7 linked regions of the Homo sapiens genome follow. The protein of the gene in region 6 purifies or fractionates together with the protein of the main gene of each other region. This does not show direct contact. Each region holds a gene or a part of one and is shown on either strand. Other genes may lie near its edges.

Region 1 (3,500 bases), on a different chromosome or scaffold from region 6:
AGACAATTATCCAGGTCTGGCCAAATGATTTGGGTCTAAAAGTTGGTGACCCCAGAAAGAGCTTATTTGGCGGAAACAGTTCTGGGAGAGTGTCTGGCTGATGTATGGCAATCTCCAGTTTCAAAAACAAGAACATGAGCCTGGCTCAGAGACTCTCCCTCACTGCTTAGTCAACCCTGCTGCTTGTCTGGGGGTTCTGCTTTGGTTAGAAGCTTCTGCAGGTCTGTTAAATATGTCTCTGTGGCCCTGGGAGAAGTAAAATAGCTTTCAGGTCCTTTTGTTGTAGAACAAGATGAGGTTGGCCAAGTGAGTTTGAGTCTGAGACAAAGGTCTTGCAATGTTGCTGCCTCCAAGCGGAACCAGGCCAGCCTCTGCTCTGTTTAACTTGCCGCGGCATGCGGGGGTCCTACATCAGGAAACCTCCCAAACAGCCTTTCCTCTTCATGCACACATTCTGACATAGAGAACAAAGACACACAGAAGTCACATGTTAGATAAGAATCCCACTTATTTCCTAGAGAGCCCACTGTACTGGACTTGGTTTTCTTACTTTGTATTTCTATGGGATGAGCTGAAGAGTGAGGGGAAGCTGGCCAGGCCCAGTTGGTTAGGCTTTTACCTACAGCCTAGCATATAGGTTGGGGCTGTACCACACAAAAGACTGTGTTGCCAAAAAGAAAAAAATCTTCCACTCCTAGGGAAAATAAATTTCAATATCACAGTTTAGTTTCATTTTGTTTTGTTTCGTTTAGTTGTTTTGTTTCATTTCGTTTGAGACAGAGTCTCACTCTGTCAGCCAGGCTGGAGTGCAGTGGTACAGTCTAGCTCACTGCAACCTCCACCTCCTTGGTTCAAGTGATTCTCTTGCCTTAGCCTCCCGGGTAGCTGGGATTACAGGTGTGTACCACCACGCCCAGCTAATTTTTGTACTTTTAGTAGAGATGGGGTTTCGCTATGTTGGCTGGGCTGGTCTTGAACTCATGGCCTCAAGTGACCTGCCGCCTCAGCCTCCCAAAGTACTGGGATTATAGGCATGAGCCACTGTGCCTAGCCCAATATCACTATTTTAGAAAGAAGATAGAATCTGCAGACTAGCGGGTGAGGAAAATGCAGGCACTGATAAGTAAAAATTGTCTGAAAGCCAGAGGCTTTCCAAATGTGAGGAGGATAAAAAGCACAGCCCCTTCCAGAAGCAGGGGCGGCTCCTCCCAGGGAGACATTCCAAAATATGACCAGAGCCATCAGGGAAAGGCTGAGGAGACCTCAGGAGGACATCCAATATCCCAGCACAGGGAGCTCCGTCTCTGCCCTGTCCTGACCCTGACAGATAGTCTTACATCTGCAACCTCCTTATCCGTAAAGTCCTTTCCAGGTGCTGGCTAAACTGTCCCTTCCCCGCAACCACACCAGAAGACAATGGCTGGCAGCCTGTGCTCTGCTAACTGGCATTATGATGGTGTGGCAGTGTAAAGGCATTCCAGTAACTGTCTTGACTACCTGCTTCCAAAAAGCTGGTGACACTGGGTAGCAGCAAGTCCCCACCCCACTGAGGAGACCACCTTTTTCTTTCTTTCTTTTTTTTTTCTTTTTTTCTGAGACGGAGTCTCACTCTGTCACCCAGGCTGGAGTGCAGTGGCACGATCTCGGCTAACTGCAAGCTCCACCTCCTGGGTTCACACCATTCTCCTGCCTCAGCCTCCCATGTAGCTGGGACTACAGGCACCCGCCACCATGCCCGGCTAATTTTTTGTATTTTTTTTTTTTTTTTTTTAGTAGAGACAGGGTTTCACCGTGTTAGCCAGGATGGTCTCGATCTCCTGATCTCATGATCTGCCCACCTCGGCCTCCCAAAGTGTTGGGATTACAGGCGTGAGCCACCGTGCCCAGCCCACCATTTCCTAAGTGTATATATGCATATGTGTATTATTTATTCATTTATATATATTTATACTTAATTAATATCAAGAGAGAGGGAGACAGGGTCTCACTCTATCACCCAGGCTCTGGAGTACAGCGGCGTGATCTTAGCTCATGGCAGCCTTGAACTGCTGGGCTCAAGCGATCCTCCTGCCTCAGTCTCCTGAGTAGCTGGGACTACAGGCACACACCACCACGCCCAACTGATCTTTTTATTTTTTGTAGAGATGGGGTCCCACTGTGGTCTGGACCTCCTGGCTGGTCTGGAACTCCTGGCTCAATTAATCCTCCCTCCTTGGCCTCCCAAAGTGCTGAGATTACAGATGTGAGCCATCCTGCCTGGTCAAAGATGTCTTTAGATCCCACAGTTCTCTGGCTCACTCATCCTGGGGCTGGGTTCTGTAAATCTGAGGATGTCTGCCCAGAGAATGGGGCTACAGTGAAATAGGCAGGCATCCACTGACTTAGATGCCTCACAGGGCTGGGCCCTATTCCCTATTTCCAGCCTTGTCCCTTGGTGCACATTTCTTTGGTTAGCCTCACTAAAGCCTTCACCCTTAACTTCCAACATGCCCCTTCCCCAGACAAGACTCCCTTTGAGATCTGCACACAACCAGAGCCATGTCCAAACAGGAGTGGCAAACCTGTTTGCACATTATTTCTGACATTATTTCTCCATGGGCTGAATCTTCTCATCTCCCATTCATCCCTTATTAATGTCGCCCTTCACCGTGGCTCACAGCCTGGCCTGTGGCTCCAGACTGTTGTATAATAATACAGGTGTTAACTGCTGAGGTTAACAGTGGGAAGTTGTCACTAGAGGTTTCCCACTCATCACTGTCACTGAAAAACTGGCAACTTACAGGGAGTCCAATTTTGGAACAGGACAAATACAGCAATCACAGGTTAAAAGGTTACCATTTGTAACATACCCCAACCATCTCATTTCCCTGTCAACCTGGGCAATATTATTTTTCACCTCTTGTGCACAAAATGATGCCCAGTGAATGAATAACTAGTTCTATTCTGCCAGATCTGAAAGAAGAGATAAGTCTGGAGCATAGATTTCATCATAACCAAGTTACCCCAACCTAGTCTGCAACACTAAAAGCCAGCACCTTGAATTCACAGGTAAAACATGAGTATGTGGTAGAGGGATCAGTGTAGAAGCCTGGAGCCCCGATTCCCCAAAAGAGCTATAGAGCCCCGAACAACCAACAGCAACGGGTAAGTGGAGCCCAAAACAACAGAAAAAAATATCATTTCTCAATTACAAACTGGCCTGGGGAGCAGGAAGGACTGAAAAGTGAGGGAAAGCAGGAACTCTACTACTGAGTGTGGGAGGAGAAAAACAGCAGGAATTGGGCAGGGAATAACACCCTGGACAATAATAAACTTAAGGGATTCCTTTCTCCAACAGTTCATCATTTGTGCAGAAGAAATAAAGGACTGGCTTCAGTAAGGGTTTAGAGAGATAAAACTGATCAACTCACATATGGCTGCTAAGGAGAGCAGAGATTTCCAAGGTCAGGGAGGACAAGCACGCCCTCCCAGCAACTGCACCAGGCACCGAATGCCAGCAT
Region 2 (3,500 bases), on a different chromosome or scaffold from region 6:
AAAAGTTTTTTTTAAAAATAAGCCTATCACGTTGCCATATATTATAATGGGGGATTAAATATAGTCACCCTAGTGGTACCTCTTACTGGCATATAAAGTCTAACTGGCACATATGCCAATAAAATGTACCTTACTAACATGTATGCCAGTTAGACTCTGTATATGCAGGTATATATATATATAGTAGGGACTTAATATTCTTTGTAGGATTGCATATATATGTAGCTAATACTAGTTACTTAAAACAGTTGGTTCTTAGATAGCTGTGGATTTGACCAGAATCAGGCAGAGGCAATAAATCTGAGTATTTATTGAGTAGGTGTGAGGAACTCACATAGACTGCCTGAAGAGTAGAGATGCATGGGGTTGGGGATGTGCTGGTAAGAGATGAAACAGAAAGAGGTGGGCCCACATCAGTCTGTGAAGGTAAGGCCCTTGCATGTCATTAGTGTCCCGGTATTATGTCACTGCTTTCTAAAGGAGTCTCATGTTAACAGTAGAAACATGTAAAATTTAGGAACCAGACGGAATTGTGATTTTAAATAAGCCAATCAATTTCCCTAGTCTGACTGTTCTTATCAGTAAACACAGAATACAAGGGATATAATGTAAGCACATAGTATTTGTAATAGTAGTTGACATTCATTGAGTGCTTTCAATGTGGTAGGTACTCTTGTTTATTTTAAAAGAAGCATTTTACTAGAATCATAGTAGAAACTTAGTGGTCAGACTTCATGTAGCATCACTTACAACCTTCATTGAATATTGTGAAGAAACTTAGTGGTCAGACTTCATGTACCATCACTTACAACCTTCATTGAATATTGTGAAGTGCTTGTTGAATCTGAGACTTAAAAATTTTGTTCTTTTAGAGGAAACATGGAGAAAGCCATTGACATGTTCAACAAAGCTATTAACCTGGCCAAATCGGAAATGGAGATGGCCCATCTGTATTCACTTTGCGATGCCGCCCATGCCCAGACAGAAGTTGCAAAGAAATACGGATTAAAACCACCAACATTATAAAACAGGGGGAAAGCAGACTGACCCTCTTTTTAAAAGTTTACCCCCTCTTCAACTGAACCCTAAAGACACTGTCATGAACTGTGTTGAATGGTGGAAATCAGTATTTCTGTTTGTGGTGTTGTTATTTGTTACATCTGTTTCATGTCTAGGTGTTGTGGGTGTGGCTGTTGAAGGAAGTTTGCAGTCTTGCAGCTTTTATTCCCTGTGCAACAAAAGATTAGAACATGTTAAAGGGATTTTTAAATAAAGTTGCAAAGAGTACAAATGATAATTGGCCATGCAAATAAAAACTGATTTGTTGATTTTTTTTTTAAGGGGGGTTGGCAGTTGATTATGTTCTGGATGATTCCGTCTATATATGTGTGAATAATGTAAGTATTTTACAGCATGTTGATTTTTAAATTAACGTAGTAAATGCTGTAAAATAGATTTATATTCAGTTAACCGCTTTCAGTTGATTTTTTGAAAGAAACAAAGGTTAAATGGGGGATTAAAGTAAAATTGAGAGACCCTTTAAACCATTGTCAGCATGCACAATGCCTCTGATTCTGCAGTTTTAGAAACTTGGTGGCACTTATTAATCCTCTTGGCCCCTTTCCACTCTAATGGATAGTGTACATTCTTCTTAAAGTCCACAACAGCAGATTTTCTTGCAGTAAATTATGCAGATGCAAAATATTCTAATTGATATATGTGTTGGAAGACTGAGTATTGATGGGGGAGTGGACCAGACAAAGAGGTAAGATGAAACAGTAGTGTGTTTATAATTGTCTGTGACTATTTTCTATAATAATTAGTACTATTTAATGGTGAGCTTTTAAAAATGTAGGATAGAGGGTACAGTGGCACTGTATATACTATTTATAGTCTCAGCTACTAGGGAGGCTGAGGCAAGAGGCTTGAGACCAGGAGCTCGAGGCTGTAATGTGCCATGATGATTGCACCTGCGAATAGCCACTGCACTCCAGCCTGGGCAATATAGCAAGACCCCATCCTTTAAAAAATTTTAGAACTTTTTTAAAATCAAAGTGCAGATTGCTTGTATGTAAAACCCAAATAAAGGTAGAGTAAGTGTGATATATGGGAGTATTAAAATAGCTTAAAATTTCTCGTGAAGGACATGTGGCTAAAGGGTCAAAAAGGATGTAAGACTTGGAGCCAGAGCATAGTATTTCCTGAAATAACAAGTTTAGTGCTTTAACTATGGCTACATGTGCTTAAGGAATTTTGAGCCACTTATTTTTGAAGATGCTGAGGACATGTAGAGTGCTTTTTGTAGTGAGCTAACCTTGATCTCTAAGGACTAACTACCCAGGTCCAGGTCTTCACTAGGGGTACTGACAGTGTTTAAGCTTTACTCCACCTCCTTACTTAGAAATCACTTTACGATTTATTTCCATTTTCCACTTTTATAGACCATCCTTTTGCTTATATGCTAGATTTTTCTGGTGAGGGAAGGGTTGTGTTCTTCAGGGGTCTTTTGTTTTGAAATACTCAGGATGGGGAGAGGTTTATTTAAGAACGAATTATAATTATGGTTTACACTGTTGGGAGTAAAGGAGCATTTTTACACCCCTTAAGGGTGCTTAATTCTGTTGAAACCAAAAAGATTTGTCTACAAATGCTATCTTTTTTAGAAACTATTAGAAATGACTCCCTTTCAAAGTCAATCTTTGGAAAATATTGAGGAGGTCACTAATTAGTTGGTGCAGTTAATATAATTCAAGATGATTTGGATGATGGGAAGTTTGAGACCGCTGCATTTTGTTTTTAAATTATGCACCTTCTGATAACCCCCAAATACAGAAATGTTCTACATCTCTGAATGACCTCTGACTTTAAAAAAGTTTTTATTTGCATGGCTGTATTTACATTAACACTGACATTTTCTTCTACTCTTCTCCCTTCTTTCATCTTGGGGTTGGGTAGAGAAACACAAAGGAAACTGAAGCATGTGCCATTCTATACTGTCATTCCAAATTCTCATGGACTATTGCCTGTTGTGAAAATGTTTGAAACTGCACTGAAAGCTGCATCTGTCTGTATCTTTCTTTTGTAAATGACCTCACATGTAAATTCACCAAATAAATATTACATTCAAGCTCTTCTATCTATTCTTTAAATAGAAAGATAGGTAGTTTAGGCTGGGCATGGTGGCTCACACCTGTAATCCCAGCACTTTAGCAGGCCGAGGCGGGCAGATCACGAGGTCAGGAGATCGAGACCATCCTGGCTAACACGGTGAAATCCGTCTCTACTAAAAATACAAAAAAGTAGCCGGGTGTGGTGGTGGGCGCCTGTGGTCCCAGCTACTTGGGAGGCTGAGGCAGAAGAATCATTTGAACCCGGGAGGCGGAGGTTGCAGTGAACCTGCTGAGATCACGCCACTGCACTCCAGCCTGGGCAACAGAGCAAGACTCCGTCTCAAAAAAAAAAAAAAGGTAGTTTATTCATTTATTATGCTATTGCGTAAA
Region 3 (3,500 bases), on a different chromosome or scaffold from region 6:
GAAAAATGGAGTCTAAAAGCAAACAAGTTTAGGAATGGCTGAATGGTAGCCCCCAACTTGGAGAGTCACAATATACACTGGCTTGGTAAAGGTTTTAAGAAATAACCTACCCAACTTTTTTTTGTTTTTGTTTTTTGAGACAGAGTCTCACCTTTTTTTCCCAGCCTGGAGTGCAGTGGTACAATCTCAGCTCACTGCAACCTTCACCTCTCAGGTTCAAGTGATTCTTGTGCCTCAGCCTCCTGAGTAGCTGGGATGACAGGTCTGTGCCACCACACCCAGCTAATTTTTTGCATTTTTAGTTGAGACAGGGTCTTACTATGTTGGCCAGGCTAGTCTCAAACTCCTGGCCTCAAGTGGTATGCCTGCCTCAGCCTCCCAAAGTGCTGGAATTACAGGCATGAGCCACTACGCCTGGCCCCAACTTCATTTTTATTTTTATTTTATTTTATTTTTGAGACAGAGTCTTGTTCTGTTGCCCAGGCTGGAGTGCAGTAGCACGATCTCAGCTCACTGCAACCTCCGCCTCCCGGGTTCAAGCGATTCTTCTGCTTCAGCCTCCCTAGTATCTGGGATTACAGCTGCATGCCACCACGCCCGGCTAATGTTTGTATTTTTAGTAGAGACAGTGTTCGCCATGTTAGCCAGACATGTCTCGAACTCCTGACCTCAACTGATCTGCCTGCCTCAGCTCAAAGTGCTGGGATTACAGGCGTGAGCCACTGCACCTAGCCCAACTTCATTTTTAAACCAACTTTTTGACTGTAGAACTGTTTTTTTTCTTCATAAAATCTGCTGACATTCCATGGGTATTATACAGAGTGCAATGTATGCACAAAGATCTCCAACACCTAATTATAATGGCAAAAGGAAAGAATGTAGATATCAAACAGAATCATTAAGCAATCACCTGTGGCCATACTACCCTGAACTTACCTGATCTCATCAGACCTCGGAAGCTAAGCCGGGTAGTGGTTGGCTAGCACTTAGATGGGAAAATGATAAAGTAATCGATGGCATACAGCCATTAAGAATCACTTTTATGAAATTTTTTTTTAATTTGGGTGAGGGCATAGGCTGTAATATTAAATTTAAAGAGCAGCGTACAAAATATAATTTGACTTCATCAAGGTAGGAACTTCCACAGATAAAGACTGGACTGAAAAATGCTGAAATGTTAGCAGTGGCCATTTTGGTATTGTGCAGTCATTGGTAATTTTAAAATCATTTTTGGAAAAAAACTATACTTCAACTTTTAACAATAAGCATATATTGCTCTCACTGTAAGGAGAAAATTGGATTTAAAAAACATTCAGCTAAATCGTGCTTCACTGAGGTATTTTCCCATGTGAGCTCTGCTTGACACAGAAATCTTTATGAAGCAAGTGTACTTTTCTGTGGAAGAGGTGACTTGGGAATAATTTCTTTTACTATCCTGTTTTTTTAGCCCATTCCTGGTTTAGAAAAAAAAAATGTGCAACTCGCTGCCAGCGTTCATCTAATTTTACGTAAACATGCTCTTTGAGGCCGAAGCAAATCTGACTGATTTTAAATGCGAAAATAGAAAAACTGTTCTTGGAGTTCTTTCCTTTTTTTTTGAGATGAGTCTCGTCTTGTCACTCAGGCTGGAATGCAGTGGCGGGATCTCGGCTCACTGCAACCTCTGCCTCCCAGGTTCAAGCAATTCTCCTGCCTCAGCCTCCCGAGTAGCTGGGATTACAGGCATGCCCCACCACGCCTGGCTAGTTTTTGTATTTTTAGTAGAGACAGGGTTTCACCAGGCTGCTCTCGAACTCCTGACCTCAAGTGGTGCACCTGCCTTGGCCTCCCAAAGTGTTGGGATTACAGGCGTGAGCTACCATGCTTGGCCTTTTTAATTTTTTTAAAAAAATAGAGATGGGGTCTTGCTATGTTGACCAGGCTGGTCTCAAATTCCTGACCTCAAGTGATCCTCCCATCTTGGTCTCCCAAAGTGCTGGGATTACAGAGGTGAGCCACTGCACCCAGCCATGTTCATGGGAGTTATTTCTAAATAGAACTTGTCTCTAATCCTAATGTAACAGAAATGTATATGATGTTACATTAGGATTAAAGACAGGAGTATTCTTGGGGCAAATGGGAAATGGGTTAAAAACACCACTCCAAAGATTTTGTGAAAGCTGAAATGTCCACATGAGTTATCCTAACCCTGACCTCAGCACTGCCCTTATCCTTCACATGGGACCCAGTGCTGGGAGCCAGAGCCATCCTTGGGCTGCTGTCCCAGGATGTCTGCTCATTTCTCTGCTTCTGCTTTCCAATGTCTCTAACTTTGGTTTAAAAAAAAAAAAAAAAATTTTTTTTTTTTTTTAGACAGGGTTCTTCTGTCTGTCGCCCAGGCTGGAGTGCAGTGGCACAACCTCAGCTCACTGCAGCATCTGCCTCCCAGGCCCAAAACAATCCTCCATTTCCATTTCCCAGGTAGCTGGGACTACAGGCACATGCCACCAGGCCTGGCTAATTTTTTGTATTTTGAGTAGAGACAGGGTTTTGACTTGTTGCCCAGGCTGGTCTCGAACTCCTAAGCTCAAGCAATCTGCCTGCCTTGGCCTCCCAGAGTGCTGGGATTGCGGACATGAGCCACCATGCCTGGCCTATAAATAATTTTTTAATTATACAAGTAATGCATGAATCAGTTCTCTTTGTAAAAGATTAAAGCATTACAGAGAAGGCCAAAGTCCCCTTTATCAATACTCAACCCTGCTCCCCTCCACCTTTCCCAAAAGGAAGCTATAGGTGAATCCTTCCAGACCCTTTTCTGTGCATTTGAATACATTTCTATGCATCCATAGAAATTATATATTGTAGGTTTTTTTGTTTTCTGTTTTGTTTTTGTTTTGTTTTTTGGAGACAGGGTCTCACCCAAGCTGAAGTGCAGTGGTGCAGTCTCGGCTCACTGCACCTCAGCCTCCTGTGCTCAAGCTATCCTCCCACCCCAGCTTCCCAAGTAGCTGGGACTACAGGTGCGTGCTGCCACACCTGGCTAATTTTTGTATTTTTAGTAGAGATGGGGTTTCACACTGTTGCCTAGGCTGGTCTTGAACTCCTGGGCTCAGGTGATCCACCCGCCTCAGCCTCCCGTAGTGCTGGGATTACAGGCATGAACCACCACACCTGGCCTGTATATTGTTTTGTTCTGTTGGTGATTTACATGGCCAAATATAATACATTAGAGAAGCGTCCATTTTAGTACATGTAGCTCTACCTCCTTCACTTTTTTTTTTTTTTTTTTTTTTTTGAGACGGAGTCTCGCTCTGTCGCCCAGGCTGGAGTGCGGTGGCATGATCTCGGCTCACTGCAAGCTCCACCTCCTGGGTTCAAGCTAGTCTCCTGCCTCAGCCCCCCGAGTAGCTGGGATTATAGGCGCCATGCCTGGCTAATATTTTTGTATTTTTAGTAGAGACGGGGTTTCACCGTGTTAGCCAGGATGGTCTCAATCTCCTGACCTCGTGATCCGCCCG
Region 4 (3,500 bases), on a different chromosome or scaffold from region 6:
TTAATTCTCCAAATAATTCAGCCCTCCAAAAAAATCCCACTTCTTATGTTTTCAAACCTGTAGCTACTTTTGATGCGTACTTCCTAAATTGCATTTTTATTACTTTAAAAAATATAATACCTAGAAGCTCAAAGCTGGAAACAGCCTGATCAATATAGTACTCTTAAGCTAAAAACAACCTGATCAATATAGTACTCTTAGGGAAATCACTTATGCCTGTGGCTTTTTTTAAATTTTCTTCCTGTCAGCTGTCTCTTCATGATTTTGTGGTTTTTATTACTGCTTATACCATAGATGAGGTATAGAAAGTAAAAGAAGTTAAAATGCATTTTTCTCAATTTAGTGAATTAATGATTACATTCAGATTTATAGGACAAGGGTTGAAGCTACAAGGGGTTGATAGGAATCTTGATGTATCTGAGTATTTTCCCCAACTTTATTACATGACTGGTTCAGACTATTTTATCTAATTACATTTCACTCTTGGCAAAAATAGCAAAACAGTCAACCAATGGTCAATGCTGCTGAGAACTCTGGCCTGTGCAGACATATTGGCTGTTTTACTTCTAATACCATTCTGCTTTTCCTGTCCTGCTGCTGATGGATGTTTCTTCCAGGTTTTAAATATCAAACAAAAGGGATCTGTGGGCCCAGTACAGGGAATGGCTCTTGATAGATTTGATTTTCCTGCATTTCCTTTATTTTGATCCAGTGTTAATTTCATGTAGAGTTGTCTGTTTAACAGGATTCTCTTAAAATTCCTTCTTCAGTTTACCTGCCAGCTTTTCTTTGTCCAGGTTTCAGTATGAACTCCACTCGATTAATAGAGCTCTCTAGTAGTGACTTGTGGAGTGGGTTCTCTGAACATTTCTGGAAGTGTTGCTGATAGTGATAATATTGATCACTAGTACTGTTAATTTGTGTGCTTACTACATGTTGGCTTTTATATGTATTCCTTCAGATTAAGGACTTCTAGAAAACATCCATGAAAAAACAGATTAAAAAAAACAATTCTGCATGTATTTGGGACTAGAAGGTACTATGGGAAGGATAATCTTCATACTCAGACCATACTGACCTGAATTTCATTTATCAGTTTAGAGAACCACTTCCCCTTCCCTTCACCCTACCTCCGAGTGCCTGTGACTTTGTATCACCGCTCTGGCACCACATCCTCATCCCAGCAGGATTTGGGAAGGCTGCTTTTTGAAAGCCTTTTAAAATTCTGTAAGTTGAGAAAATACTAGGGGAATGATTTTAAATTTCTTTAGAATTACAGGCTTTAGTCAGTATATGACAGAGCCTTTTCCTAGAAAAATGTGCATATAAAAATTTGCATGTAGTTTTAGGGTTTCAGAGACCCCTAAAGCCTATCCATAGACGTGGTTCATTGTCTGATTGTGTTTAGGTACCCTTCTAAAACCCTTTTGAGATGTTAGGAATCACAACAGAGTATCTCTGAAAATGTAATTAGCGGAAAGAATATTTCAAAGACTGTTGTTCTGCTTAGACTTTCTAGTTTGTCTTCTGCCAGGCTTGCCGGAATAAATGAGTTTCCTGGCCTGATACTCAAAAGAATTGACATTTAAATTAGTCTCTCTCTTCCCTTGTTTTCGCTTGACACATCCTTGTCTCTACATTCTGTCTCTGTCTCTGTTAGCTTATTTCTCTCTCGAGTCAGCAGGATATAGTGGCTGTTATTTCTTCCCCTTATCCTTCAACTATCTACTTTTGACAACACTTTGCCTTTTTTTTTTTGAGATGGAGTTTCACTCTTGTTGCCCAGGCTGGGTGTAATGGTGCAATCTCAGCTCACTGCAACCTTTGCCTCCCGGGTTCAAGCCATTTTCCTGCCTCAGCCTCCCGAGTAGCTGGGATTACAGACATGCACCACCACGCCTGGCTAATTTTGTATTTTCAGTAGAGATGGGGTTTCACCATGTTGGTCAGGCTGGTCTTGAACTCCTGACCTCAGGTGATCTGCCTGCCTCGGCCTCCCAAAGTGCAGGGATTACAGGCGTGAGCCACTGTGCCCTGCCTGCTATTTGCCTTTTTAATCTCATGAAATGTTCTCTTTTCTTGGCTGAAGTGTCACTTTTCTTGTTGAACAGCATGCGTGGTGAGTAGAATGTTATAAAAAGGGATGGACTTTGGAGTTAGAGAGACCCAGGTTCCTGTTCGGCATTGCAGAAATGCTGTTCTGCAATAGGCTGTGTGTCAGTGGGCAAATTACTTATCTCTCAGAGCCTTATTGGTAAGGTGTGAGTGATAGCTCCTTTCAGGCACCTTACAGAGGCTGTCTCCTAATCCTGGTAGCGTACCTGGCTCATAGATGGCATTTAAAAGTGGTTGTGATGACAGTCATAGCTCACCATTAGCATAGCGCTGGATCCATGGCAGGGAAGCGCTGCACATGCAGTATCTCTTGGACTACACAGGGCCCTCATGAATTAGGAACTGCTGTTTCATGAGGATAGGGATGAGGAAATTAGACTTGCTGCCCCTCACTGCCTTCCACTCCTCTCCTCCAAGTTAATGGGAACTATGACTCTGCTTTGGCTTGATTGCCATGGAAGATTCTCACACAGCCAAATTTATTGCTATCTTAGTTAAATTATGCCAGAACACAAAATATGAAGTTATTGTCAAAGTAATATAATCTCAGCTGTAACTGAGATAGTCAGAAACTGTCTGTAATCTGATGTCCTATCTGAAAGGTAGCTGAGAATAAACAAGAAATAAAGAGAATTCAGTAGCAAATATTGGTGACACAAAGCTTTTATATTTTGACTAGTTAAGCTAGTTCTTAAATGTTTCCACTAAAATATTCAAGTTTAAGGGCATAGCCCAGGGCAGCTTATTATGAACATGATGTATTTTGGAAATCTTACACTTTCTCTTAAAAGTTCTTGGGAGGGGCATGTGAGGCCATAATATAACCATAAAACCATTTGTTTTAAAATAAAACCCATTTTTAAAATTCTTCCAAATAAAAAAATTATTGCAGGAAAAAATGCTAAACCTGGTTTTTAACTTTGTACGCCAACTATATTTCCAAGATGTGCTGTAGCCTGGTAACCATACAGAACCATACAGAATTAGTTCTCAGAATTTATTGTCTGCTTACTTTTGCATTTGGTACAGGTATAACAGGGTCGATTATATGGTTTCTAAGACATGACTAGAAAGAAATATGTTTATCAGTTATTATTTCTTCCATCTAAATTAGAAGGGGCTAGGGAGAGGGCTTCAACAGGAATTTATATACTTTAGAGAAAAGTGATCATTGATAGCCCAATAGTATAGATATCTCAACCCAATAACACAGGTTGTGTCTGTCTCTGGGATCATACACTGTAGGGGAGAATCTTTGCAAGCAACATTCTACTTATAGGGAGCCATAACAAAAGTTTCATATGTATAATAATTATAAGTCTTAAGTCATCAAGAAAAAGTTAACTTGTGAATGATAATCCCTGATTAAAAAGAGAGATGTATAA
Region 5 (4,031 bases), on a different chromosome or scaffold from region 6:
ACTGACCTTGAACAATGCCCCTAGTCAGATGAAGTTACTCTTGACTGTAAAATGGGGACAAGAGGCCAGGCGTGGTGGCTCCCAGCACTTTGGGAGGCAGAGACAGAGGCAGCAGGATCACTTGAGGCCAGGAGTTAGAGACCAGCCTGGGCAACATAACGAAACTTCATCTCTACAAAAAATTAAAAATTAGCCAAGTACGGTGGCACATGCCCATGGTCCTAGCTACTTGGGAGGCTGAAATGAGAGGATTGCTTGAGCCCAGGTTGACGCTGCAGTGAGCTATGACTGCCCTTCTGCACTCCCGCCTGGGAGACAAAGTGAGACCTCATCTCAAAAAAAAAAAGAAAAGAAAAGAAAAAAATAAATTTTAAATTTAAAAAAATAGAGACAAGTTTGAACTAGATAATCTCTGAGCTTTTCTAGCTGTATAAATTCCCTAATCTATTAATGTATTCCAAAAGAAAAAGTCCTAAAGTAGACAGTCTCAAAAATCTATACAATTTACATCTTAGCAAGGGCCCTTAAGCCTTTTCTCAAAGCTACTTATTGTAATAAAATCTTCACAAACTTCATTATCTGCTTTCCCATTCCACAACACATCAGAGGCTATAAATTACAAGGTGCCAACAATCGACAGTAAGAGACAGCTGACATCTCTCTGATACTGCAGCCACCAATGACAGCCAACAGGCAAGAAAGAAAGTGGGAAAAACTCTAAAATTAGAGCCCCCAAACTCTGAGCACAGTATTTTGGTGAGAGCAAACAACTCCTACACTCACACACTCAACCATTTATTTACAGCACAGGACGAGTAACATGCACGATGCTGGCCCTCAATCACTAGACTCATTTTATTGGCAATTTTTTTTTAAAGGGAAGAAACCTTAAAAGTGGCTCAAATATTGAAAGACGGTTCAAATATCTTGTTTGGGGTCTATGTATATTTATGTCCTTCTAAACAATGGTTTTAACCACGGTGATTTTGCCCTCGGAAGACATTTAGCAACGTTCAGAGACACTGTTGTTGTCACAACTGCAGCATTGCTACTGGCATCTAGTGGTTAGAGGACAGAGACGCTGCTGAACTTCCAACAATTCACAGGACAGACCCACACCAAATGATCCGGTCCAAAACGTCAACAGTGCTGAGATTGAGAAACCCTGCTCTAAACCTATGTATGGGCTGGGTCGTTGAGCTTTAGCCTCAAGGACTTCCTGATTATCTGCCCCTTGAAATATCCTCTGTGTATACCAGATGGCAGAGGTTCTTTGGTTCATATGCACGAAGTTACTAGCTTTCAATTTTGGTAGATGTCTTTTGGTGGTGGTGGTGGTGGATTTTCAGCAGCAGAATGCTTTTGTTTTTTAAAAATCTTATCTGGAAACCAAATATGCCAAGTAAATATAAGTGGGACTACTGTAATGTGTAGGTGGGGGGGCGGGGGGGGCCCTCCTCTGAGATCCCTAGAACTCTACTGGTCTGGAAACCTCTGGACTAGTATACTGTATCACTAAGGCATTAGAAGAGCTCCAGGAAAAACAGCAACATAGTTAAAAGAATATGTTTAGTTCTCTGGAAACAATTACTTCTGTGGAGTTTCCCACATTCCTCAGAAGTATGGACACACAAGACATTCCTGAATTCACTGAGTGCCTACTGTATACCAAGCAATGTGTTAACACCAGAGATACAGCGAACAAAATGGACGTGGCCCTGCGCTCCTGAAGTTTGCATTCTAATGGCAGATACACAGTAAAATTTAAAATATTTCTATATGAAATATATATTATCAATGACACACACATTGCGTACCAATTGTGTAAAGTTCCACAAAGGAAAACCACAGAATATACAATTGGAGCCCTCATTCCTAAGTACTTCTTGGTCCTGTCCCATAAATTAAAGGCAAAAAGTCTGCGAGTTCCATGGGATCTCAGAAACTGATGGTCGCATAAAACCCTCCGTAATTTCAAAGCCCAGAAATAGAGAATGCAGACAAATTATGAAACAATAACGAAATAAACACCCCCTCTTTGAGGTATCGACTGGGCATTGCCCCCACCCCAGCACATCTCCCTCTAAACCGCCGGGAGTGGGGGCAGGAATGCTCCAAAGCTGAGATCTAAATGTGTCTCTGATTGAACGTCCGTTTTTCAACCAAAGACACCGGTGAGCGAGAGCTGCCAGGTGGCAGTGAAAGGCGAGTGTGAAGTTAACCTGGGGAAGATCGGTGCGTCCAGTACTTCGGCCATAAACCTCCCAGAGCCGACCCGCCTCGCCCGCTGAGAATTTGGGCACTCGCCTAGGTCCGAGCTACTACCCCTTCCCGACCCGCCGGGGTGCTGACTTGGCCGACCCCACAATTTCTCTGCACCCCCAGGGCCAGGAAAGGGCCCTGCCCGTCCACAGCTCCTCTCCACCTTAACCGCGGCCGGACGCCATCTGACAACAGGCGGGAGGAGGGGCCGCCCACGAGGGACGTCGGCCAGGTCCAGGCCTCGTGGGGTCAGGAGGGGCCCGCGGGGCAGGGGCTCAGGACCGCCTCCCTACACCTCGGCACTGCCCGGGGCACGGTAGTCGTGAGGCCCGGCCAACCGCACGCCGCCCCAGGCCCGCGGAGCCCCGCAGAGGCGAGCCCTGGCCGGGCTCCTGTCTGTCGGTACGCCTGGCCGGTACCTGAGAGGGCGCGGAAGAGGCGCGTGGCCGGCAGCAGCAGGTAACACAAGCACGACGCGATCATGGCCGGCCGCCCGCGCCCGCCTCCGCTCCTCACTGCAGCCAGCAGGTCCTCCCTCAGCTCGGCCCCGCCCCCGGCCCGGTCCGGCCCACGTGGTGCCGCCGCCGCGCTTCAACAACAACTTTATTGGGAGCGCAGGTCTACGGGTGCGCACGCAGGAAGTGGGAGGAGCCGGTTCCCATGGCAACTAGCCACCCCTAGCACCCGGCTGCCACCCAGGCGTCCCGAATTAAAATTGAGCGCCTCACTGGAGGCCCCATAGTGTTATTCAAAGGCCACAGTTTATTCCCACTTCTGCAGCTGACTAGGTGTCCACCTTGTTACCACACTATAGCCTCTCCGCCCCTCAGTTTCCTCACCTGTAAAATGAAGAGCTGGACTTTCTCTAAGGCTCCACTGAACCTTGACTTCTAGCCCTTCTCGACCCAGAAAGGAAGCGAGTTATTCCCCCATTTCCCCCGTTTTCCTGCCTCTACTTCCCTGTCTCAGATTCTAGGTCACAAATTGAGTCCTACCTTGCTTCAGGAAGTAAGACTTTGTCTCCTTCCCTACTTTCTAAACGGGCCTTCTTTTCCCTAATCTAGAAAAACAGGGTTTCCCATTGGTAAGGAAGTCAAGAAAGAAAGGAGAGAGGACAAAGAGAGGAGAGAGAGAAGGGAGAGAGGAGAGAGACAGAAGAGAGAAACTTCCACAAGGCCAGGGACCAGTTCTGGCTGGTTGTTTGCTCACTTTGAGGTATCTCTAATACAATCCAAGCACCTATTGTAACCAAGTACCCAGCTTGGAAGTTATATTCTTGTTATATACTTCTATTTCTTTATTTTTGTTCAGTTAACCACTAGGCACCCCCCGACACCCCAGCACCCCCCATACACACTGTTAGCATATCTAATTGTATGTTCGCTTAAAAGTTCCAGAGACTAAATCTTGAAACAATATAGGCATCTGTGGAAATCTCCACCAGGAGATTGATTCAAGGCTACAGTTAATTTATAACTCAGCCCAGCCCGAGATGATGCCAGCCCATTCACCAGATGGGCAGTAACTCAAGACAAGTCATCAGAACTCGTCATGAAGACCTGCACTGCCTCACCCCTTGCATACCCTCCATGCCAAAACTTCTTAAAGCCTCGCATTTTGCTTGGAAATGTGAAGCAGCTCCATTAAAGCAAAAGCCTGGATCGTTTTTCCCCACTGCTAGCTTTGGTTTATAATAAAGTCAGTCTCCTTCTACCATACCACGACCTTGCTCGTTGGTTTTGCAAGCGGCCGAATCTGCATTCGCTAGC
Region 6 (3,500 bases):
GACACCCCAGGGGGGCTGGGAAACGACCAGAATCCAGGTTCCCAGGTTGGTTGGAACAAGGACTTGTCCTTCTTTCCGTGTGCTGCTGATGCCCAGGGTCTGGGACAAACTCAAGGATTCTGGGATTCTCAGCATCAGGCCGGGAGGGTGAGAGAGGACCTCTCATTATCCCTGGAGTCATCTTTGTCTAAGGGGAGAACGGCCTCAAGAGGCGAGATTCCAGATTAGTACCCAGACCTGGGAGGAATTAATGGAATGCTTGTCCCTGGGCGCCTTAGAAACAGACCCCAGCTTATCTAAGGCTGCTCCGAGGCAGTGACCCAACTAGGGCTCAGGAAGTCAGAAGATAGACCAGCTAATAGTGATCACCTCTTGACCTTTGTGTCACGTCTTTTGCTTTTTAAAACCCTTTTGTGAACGTTATGGCCTTTGATCTGACGGCATCCTAGTTGTGAAGGGAACAGGGCAGGTATAATGTTCGTTTACCAATACAGAAATCGAGACCCAGAGATCACAAATTCTGGAGAGGCTCTGGGCTCTCCAGAGTCACTCAGCTGGAACTGACAGGGCTGGAATTAGATCCCTGGCCAGGCCAAGGGTGCATTCCTCTGAGTTTTTTCAGATCTGCTAGGAAGTGTACAGTCCGATACACCCTCCTATTTTGTTAGCTGTGGTCTACACAGCCTAGTATACATAGACCTTTCAGCAGGTCGGGTCAGGCATAGGAAGGCCTGGTCCTTCTACACAGCACTTGTTGAGGAAGGCCATCCAGGTACCTGAGGGGTTGACTGGTTCTGCCTGAACCAAGATAAGAGGTAGGGAGCAGCGATGGCTGGGAATTGCAGTGTCCAGACATTCTCACAGTGGGGATCACCTTCAAGAAGGATGGCATTCCTTCTTGAAGTGGCTTTCCCTCCCAGGAGGCTAGGAGGGCCTGGGGACGTGTCTGCCAGAATCACCTGGGTGGGAAGGGGGTCATGTTCAGCATGTGTGTGTGTGTGGTACATGTCTGTTCTGTGTGGTGAGGAGTGCCCCATCCCAGATGGGAGCCTCTGCTTGCAGGGAGACTGGCCACTTGACCTGGGCAGGTGAGTCTTCACTGGCCTTTCGATGTAAGCAAATTAAAGTGGCTCCATAGAGACCCACCCCATCTGCAATCACAGTGGTACATTCCTGCAGTTCTGCCCCTTCTCGGGGGGCCTTGTGGGTGGGTAAGCTGCTGCTGTCACATACAGAGCAAGGGTGGCCAGGAGTGCACCGCTAAGTGGTTTCTCATCTAGGTGGGCAGCTGTCTGACCAGAGGCTGCCGTGCTTACATCAGCAACAACAGCAGTCAACAGATTTGTCTAAAGTGTTTTTCGAGTGCTTTTCTGTATGTGGCTTAAAGGCCGAGGTGAGGCTGCCGGGCTGTCAAAGCCACTCAAGCAGACATCTGAGCAAATCTCTGACCAAGAACCCAGGCCATCGATCTGGTGGGATGGCCGCTCCACAGGAAGCTGAGGGTGGGGGAGTCACCTTTCCTCACTAGGAGCTGTTTGCTTCAGCAAAGCAGGATTTGAGGAGTTGGGGTCTGAAGGGGGAAAAGCTTGCTGAGGTGGAGGTGGCGATAAGCCTGGACTTGCCCTCACCTCACCCCACAGGCCAGGATTCGTCTTTGGGTTTCAGGGTGCATGTCTGTCTTAGCACTGACTGCGTGCCAAGCCCTGGATGTTGATCAGGCAGACACGGGCTCAGCCCTTGAGGCTCACAGTCCGGTGGGTTGCACAGGCAGCGGCAGCTGATCCCTCTTACCGGGTCTCCTTCTCGGGACTCCCTTCAGTCCACTTACCCCGTTTCTGCCCCCCAGGCCTTCTCTGGGCAGTGACTGTGAGGGCTGACAGGAAAGGCATGTGCAGCGTGCTTGTGAGGAGCTCAGCACAGAGGGTGGGGTGAGGGCATGTGTTGCTGAAGTCTGCATCCTGAGGTGCCTGTGGCAAACCACTCTTCCCTTCTGTCTCCTCAGTTCAGCCAGGCCCTGGCCATCCGGAGCTATACCAAGTTCGTGATGGGGGTAAGTTGTGCCAGCTGTCCTTCCTTCCCACTGCCTTGCGGACCCAAGCGGGGCCTAGGAGGCCAACCCTGGTAATGGCTGGAGGCAGGTCTTGGTACAGGGTGTTGGCGTGGTGTGTCCCTGCTCCCTGGGCCGGGGTGGGTCACTGGCACTCAGGCCTCTCTGGGTTTCAGATTGCAGTGAGCATGCTGACCTACCCCTTCCTGCTAGTTGGCGACCTCATGGCTGTGAACAACTGCGGGTAGGTGTGCGCCCCTCTACTTGCCACTCTACCTACCAAGGCTGTGGGGTGGGGGAGACCCACCGAGCCCTTCCAGCACTCTGCCCCCTCCCACCTGCTCTGTGTGTAGGCTTGGCCTGCCAGGCACCCTGGCTTCCGCTGGGATTTCCCAGCACCCCCTGGGGTAAACTGTGGTGTCAGGGGTCAGGGTGTGGATGGGTGGTAGCCTGAAGGCATTCCTTCTTGAAGTGGCTTTCCCGTGGCTGGCTGTCTTCCACTGTTCTCTGCATCTACACTCTCCTTCTCCGGCAGGCTGCAAGCTGGGCTCCCCCCTTACTCCCCAGTGTTCAAATCCTGGATTCACTGCTGGAAGTACCTGAGTGTGCAGGTGAGCAAGCACTGGACGGCGGAGGCCTTTCCTGTTCTTTGCTACATCCTTCAGCTGAAATGGTTTTGTGGATGCTTCATTGCATGCAAAGATAAGTGGTTTCATGGAATTCAATATTGTGAGGAGATACTTGGTATCTATAAGGCATTTAAGTTTTCATCTTACATAATTTCAGAAAGGATTTGAGGTGGCTAAGTGTGGGTTTATTTTAAGATTATACATCAGACAAGACCTTTTCTTCTTTGAGTCTTAAAGACTCTTAGGATAAGGATAAGAGAACTCTGGCCCAGGTGGCAGGTGGTAAAGCCCAAGAACTGCTTCTCCTTCAAGTAACATGGGCTGAAAATTCGAGGTCTGTAACCAGTTGAGCTGAGTTCCTGGGTTGTTAGGGCGGCTGGCATTGGAAACCGACTCCTCCCTCCTGCAGGACATTCCTGGGCCCAGGAGAGCCTGTGGGTGGGGCTGGGCCACGTGGGGAACTGGCAGCAGTACCAACCTTGGGTTCTCGTGTTCTGTACCGAAGCTACCTCTCCGTAGCTGGAGCTCTTGGGCCCAGCAGTCAGGGGTCCAGGCTTTGGCCGAGGGCAGAACCTTGCCTTTTCCTGGCCTTGATTTGCCTCGCAGTGAAATGGGGCAGTGGCCCGGAGGGAGCCAGAACTCTGAGTGGCCTCGAGGCTGAGAAGAGGACAGATGGGAGGGAAGCAGGGAGGAGAGCCGCAGTTCTTCCCAGTGGCCCTGGTCAGCGTGAGTGTGTCTCGTCCTCCCTATGAGCACTGAAAGAGTCCTAGACCACTTGGGCTCTGAAGCAAGAGGGGCAATGAGCCTCCTCTCTAGGGCTCTCC
Region 7 (3,500 bases), on a different chromosome or scaffold from region 6:
GGCTGCTTAAAATAAAAACACTCTTTCTTATTAATTAGTGTGTATTTGAGATTTAATTTCAGTCAATTATAAAATTGATTTTCTAAAAAGAAAATAACAAGAATATATTTGTTTTCTTATGTTTTGGGGCTATAGGAAATTTATTTGAGACTGTAATATGATTTTGAACAGAATTTAAATTCAAATTTAACTCCCTTTAATCTTTTTTTGACTATAGGTTTCAAGAGTTCTTTTTATTTTAGTAAATTAGGACTTTCTCTGTGAGCTGCCTGTTGAAATAGCACCACATGCAATGCATTAACTGTTTTAGGATTATTTGTGCTATTAAGTTGAATGTCCATTCACATTCATTATAGGTCTCTTTTTTCTTTGGGGATGAATATTTTTTCAGGTAATTCTTTCAGAATCAGCTAACAGGATATTCCTCGCTGAGAGCGGAAGGAAAATTTTATCAGCTTTAATTGTGAAAGCACGAAAGGTAAACTTGTTCTGTTGGCAAGATTTTTACCATTTACAAAAGTTGTTTTTACCCTTTGAACTGAAGATTAAGACATTAAATTTTTGATAGAAGAAAAATTTTTGTGGATAGTTGAAAAGGGCATTAAGTTATGCTCGGGTTGAACTATGTATAAAGTCCACACTATTTCAACCAAGTTGTTTCTCATAAATTATTTCCAGTTTGCCATAAACTCTGTAAATGTCATGGTGAGAATTATCATTAGATCTGCTGCTATAACCATCACTGTTATTATTACTAATGCCTCCTCTTTTATTACCTCAATCCTGTTCAGGAAGAGGGTTACAGGAAATAGCGTAGGTCTCAGAAATCTGGAATACAAATTGAACTGCCTCATCTTCATGTAGTTGAATGAGGCAGAAGCAATGACAAGAACTTCATTCAGACTGTAAGGAACCACCTTACTTTATGCAAGGTTTGTCCAGATGATGATAAAACAAAACAAGCCTTCCTTGAGCCATTTGCACACCTAGTTTTCAGACTCAATCCCTTTGAACTTTAATTCTTTCATTTATATAATAGAATTGTATTTATATTACCTCATTTCAGAGGGTTTTTAGGATGATTAAATAAATGATAAATGGGAAGCAACTTAAAGAATAAAGTGTTAAGTAGTGTAAAGCTAAGTATATGTAAGGTGATACTATTAATACATGCAATTCCCAATGTAAGTCTTGTGTTGCTTTCTTGGCCTTCTCATGACAGATAAACTCAGTGATTTGAACTAGGGTTCCTCCAAAAGAAGCAGAACTGCAACAAAAGCCTCACATAATGTCTGCTATAACCAAATTTTCATTTTAATTACTGACCAAAATAGGCATACATATTTGAGTAATAAATAGTTTGCTTGTGACATTTTACTGACATTCTTTATCTTGGCTTCTGCAAAATGTTGCAATAGCAAAGTAGTAAACCAGATAAATTTGGCATACCTTTAAAATGTATTTTAGTTCAGTTACCTAGTAGAATTAAGATCTACCAGACTTATTTGAAGAGTAACTTTCTTTGTAGCTTGTTATAAAGTTGAGTTTAGGGTTAAAATGTGTTTTCTTCTTCAGAATCCAAAGAAGTTTGAAGATGTTTTTGATGAAATGATCTATTTTTTAGAGCAGACCGATCACTGGGGTAGTACTGAAATGGAACTTGCTGCTAGAGGGGTAAATTCAAATTTTTTGTGATATTTATTTTTCTTAGTTATTTGCATGTAATTTTATATGAGTTGAGACTACTGTTTCATTGTCCTTGTTAAATAAAGCCAATTGTATGGTTGTGGGACATCTTTTTTTCTGACGAAGTCATAAACCACACTCCTTGTACGTTGGGGCAGTAGTTGTAAATTGTTTTCTAAGAAGCCTTTTTTGCTGTTGTTGGCTCCTTGCTTCCTTCCCTCCTGTCCTCCTTCCCTTGTTCCCTCTCTTCCTTCTCTCCAAAAGTCATTGGCAGGCCCCTAGCAGGACAGGAATGGTGGCCCATGCAAGGACAGCTTTGGGTAGTACAACAGCAGCAGCTCAGTAGGGCTGGGGAATTGGCTGTATACACAAGACTGAACAAATAAGTATACTGAGAAAAATCAGAGCCAGCTTTTCCCTGTGAGAGAAGGGAGGTATAAAATGCTGGGATTGGAATTGGAGCTGTCAGTGTGAGTTCACAGTTTATAATATATATGTAGATACAGATATAGAAATAAATATCGGTCCAGGCATGGTGGCTCACGCCTGTAATCCCAGCACTTTGGGAGGCTGAGGCGGGCGGATCACCTGAGGTCAGGAGTTTGAGACCAACCTAGCCAACATGGAAAAACCTTGTCTCTACTGAAAATACAAAAATTAGCTGGGTATAGTGGCTCACGCCTGTAATCCCAACTACTCGGGAGGCCAAGGAACGAGAATTGCTTGAACCTGGGAGGTGGAGGCGGCAGTGAGCCAAGATCGTGCCACTGTACTCCAGCCTGGGTGACAGAACGAGACTCTGTCTCAAAAAATATATAGATATAGATATTGGTCAGGCATGGTGGCTCACGCCTGTAATCCCAGCACTTTGGGAGGCTGAGGCGGGCGGATCACCTGAGGTCAGGAGTTCGAGACCAACCTAGCCAACATGGCAAAACCTCATCTCTACTGAAAATACAAAAATTAGCCAGGTGTAGTGGCTCACGCCTGTAATCCCAACTACTCGGGAGGCCAAGGAATGAGAATTGCTTGAACCTGGGAGGTGGAGGTGGCAGAGAGTCAAGATCGCGCCACTGTACTCCAGCCTGGGTGACAGAACAAGACTCTGGCTCAAAAAATATATAGATATAGATATCGGTCCGGCATGGTGGCTCACGCCTGTAATCCCAGCACTTTGGGAGGCTGAGACGGGCAGATCGTGAGGTCAGGAGTTTAAGACCAGCCTGACCAACATGGTGAAACCTGTCTCTACTAAAAATACAAAAATTAGCCAGGCATGGAGCGCATGCCTGTAATCCCAGCCTGGGTGGCAGAGCGAGACTCCGTCACACACACACACAAAAGGAATGAAATCCCAGCACTTTGGGAGGCCGAGGCGGGCAGATCACTTGAGGCCAGGAGTTTGAGATCAGCCAGGCCAACATGGTGAAGCCCTGTCTCCACTAAAAATACAAAAATTAGCCAGGCATGGTGGTGCATGCCTGTAATCCCAGCTACTCAGGAGGGTGAGGCAAGAGAATCACTTGAACCCAGGAGGTGGAGGCTGCAGTAAGCCGAGATCGTGCCAGTGCACTCCAGCCTGGGTGACAGAGCAAGACTCTGTCTCAGAAGCAAAAAAAAAAAAAAAGAGTGAGTTTACAAGCAGCTGAAAGGCCTTCTAGGCAGAGAAAACAGTGGATACAACAAATACATGAAGACTTAATTTTTCCTTTTCTAGTGTTCCCTTATTCAGGAAATGAAATCAGTATCCATTTACTTCTGCAGGCCAGCAACCTGAGACTCATCCTTCACCTCTCCCTGATGCTCACCCATTT

What was found.
Region 1: the proteins of MTCH1 (region 6) and MTARC2 purify together in Homo sapiens (affinity purification with mass spectrometry; one large-scale study listed by BioGRID and IntAct). This does not show direct contact.
Region 2: the proteins of MTCH1 (region 6) and TOMM70 purify together in Homo sapiens (affinity purification with mass spectrometry; one large-scale study listed by BioGRID and IntAct). This does not show direct contact.
Region 3: the proteins of MTCH1 (region 6) and USP30 purify together in Homo sapiens (affinity purification with mass spectrometry; one large-scale study listed by BioGRID and IntAct). This does not show direct contact.
Region 4: the proteins of MTCH1 (region 6) and AGPAT5 purify together in Homo sapiens (affinity purification with mass spectrometry; one large-scale study listed by BioGRID and IntAct). This does not show direct contact.
Region 5: the proteins of MTCH1 (region 6) and ANGEL1 purify together in Homo sapiens (affinity purification with mass spectrometry; one large-scale study listed by BioGRID and IntAct). This does not show direct contact.
Region 7: the proteins of MTCH1 (region 6) and MIGA1 purify together in Homo sapiens (affinity purification with mass spectrometry; one large-scale study listed by BioGRID and IntAct). This does not show direct contact.

What each region holds. Positions count from the first base shown.
Region 1 is NC_000001.11:220,751,322-220,754,821, reverse strand, and holds part of MTARC2 (mitochondrial amidoxime reducing component 2 isoform a precursor), read right to left. Parts: intron 3,493-3,500; exon of another isoform or gene 3,413-3,492; coding exon of another isoform or gene 3,411-3,412; intron 1-3,410. UniProt on the Homo sapiens protein: Catalyzes the reduction of N-oxygenated molecules, acting as a counterpart of cytochrome P450 and flavin-containing monooxygenases in metabolic cycles.
Region 2 is NC_000003.12:100,363,090-100,366,589, reverse strand, and holds the end of TOMM70 (mitochondrial import receptor subunit TOM70), read left to right. Parts: intron 1-872; coding exon 873-1,026; 3' UTR 1,027-3,159; downstream 3,160-3,500. UniProt on the Homo sapiens protein: Acts as a receptor of the preprotein translocase complex of the outer mitochondrial membrane (TOM complex). Recognizes and mediates the translocation of mitochondrial preproteins from the cytosol into the mitochondria in a chaperone dependent manner.
Region 3 is NC_000012.12:109,059,076-109,062,575, forward strand, and holds part of USP30 (ubiquitin carboxyl-terminal hydrolase 30), read left to right. Parts: intron 1-3,500. UniProt on the Homo sapiens protein: Deubiquitinating enzyme tethered to the mitochondrial outer membrane that acts as a key inhibitor of mitophagy by counteracting the action of parkin (PRKN): hydrolyzes ubiquitin attached by parkin on target proteins, such as RHOT1/MIRO1 and TOMM20, thereby blocking parkin's ability to drive mitophagy.
Region 4 is NC_000008.11:6,725,642-6,729,141, forward strand, and holds part of AGPAT5 (1-acyl-sn-glycerol-3-phosphate acyltransferase epsilon), read left to right. Parts: intron 1-3,500. UniProt on the Homo sapiens protein: Converts 1-acyl-sn-glycerol-3-phosphate (lysophosphatidic acid or LPA) into 1,2-diacyl-sn-glycerol-3-phosphate (phosphatidic acid or PA) by incorporating an acyl moiety at the sn-2 position of the glycerol backbone.
Region 5 is NC_000014.9:76,810,083-76,814,113, forward strand, and holds the start of ANGEL1 (protein angel homolog 1), read right to left. Parts: upstream 2,801-4,031; 5' UTR 2,746-2,800; coding exon 2,682-2,745; intron 1-2,681.
Region 6 is NC_000006.12:36,969,197-36,972,696, reverse strand, and holds part of MTCH1 (mitochondrial carrier homolog 1), read left to right. Parts: coding exon 1-45; intron 46-2,002; coding exon 2,003-2,050; intron 2,051-2,223; coding exon 2,224-2,291; intron 2,292-2,582; coding exon 2,583-2,658; coding exon of another isoform or gene 2,659-2,844; exon of another isoform or gene 2,845-3,500.
Region 7 is NC_000001.11:77,859,649-77,863,148, forward strand, and holds part of MIGA1 (mitoguardin 1), read left to right. Parts: intron 1-391; coding exon 392-478; intron 479-1,575; coding exon 1,576-1,674; intron 1,675-3,500. UniProt on the Homo sapiens protein: Regulator of mitochondrial fusion: acts by forming homo- and heterodimers at the mitochondrial outer membrane and facilitating the formation of PLD6/MitoPLD dimers. May act by regulating phospholipid metabolism via PLD6/MitoPLD.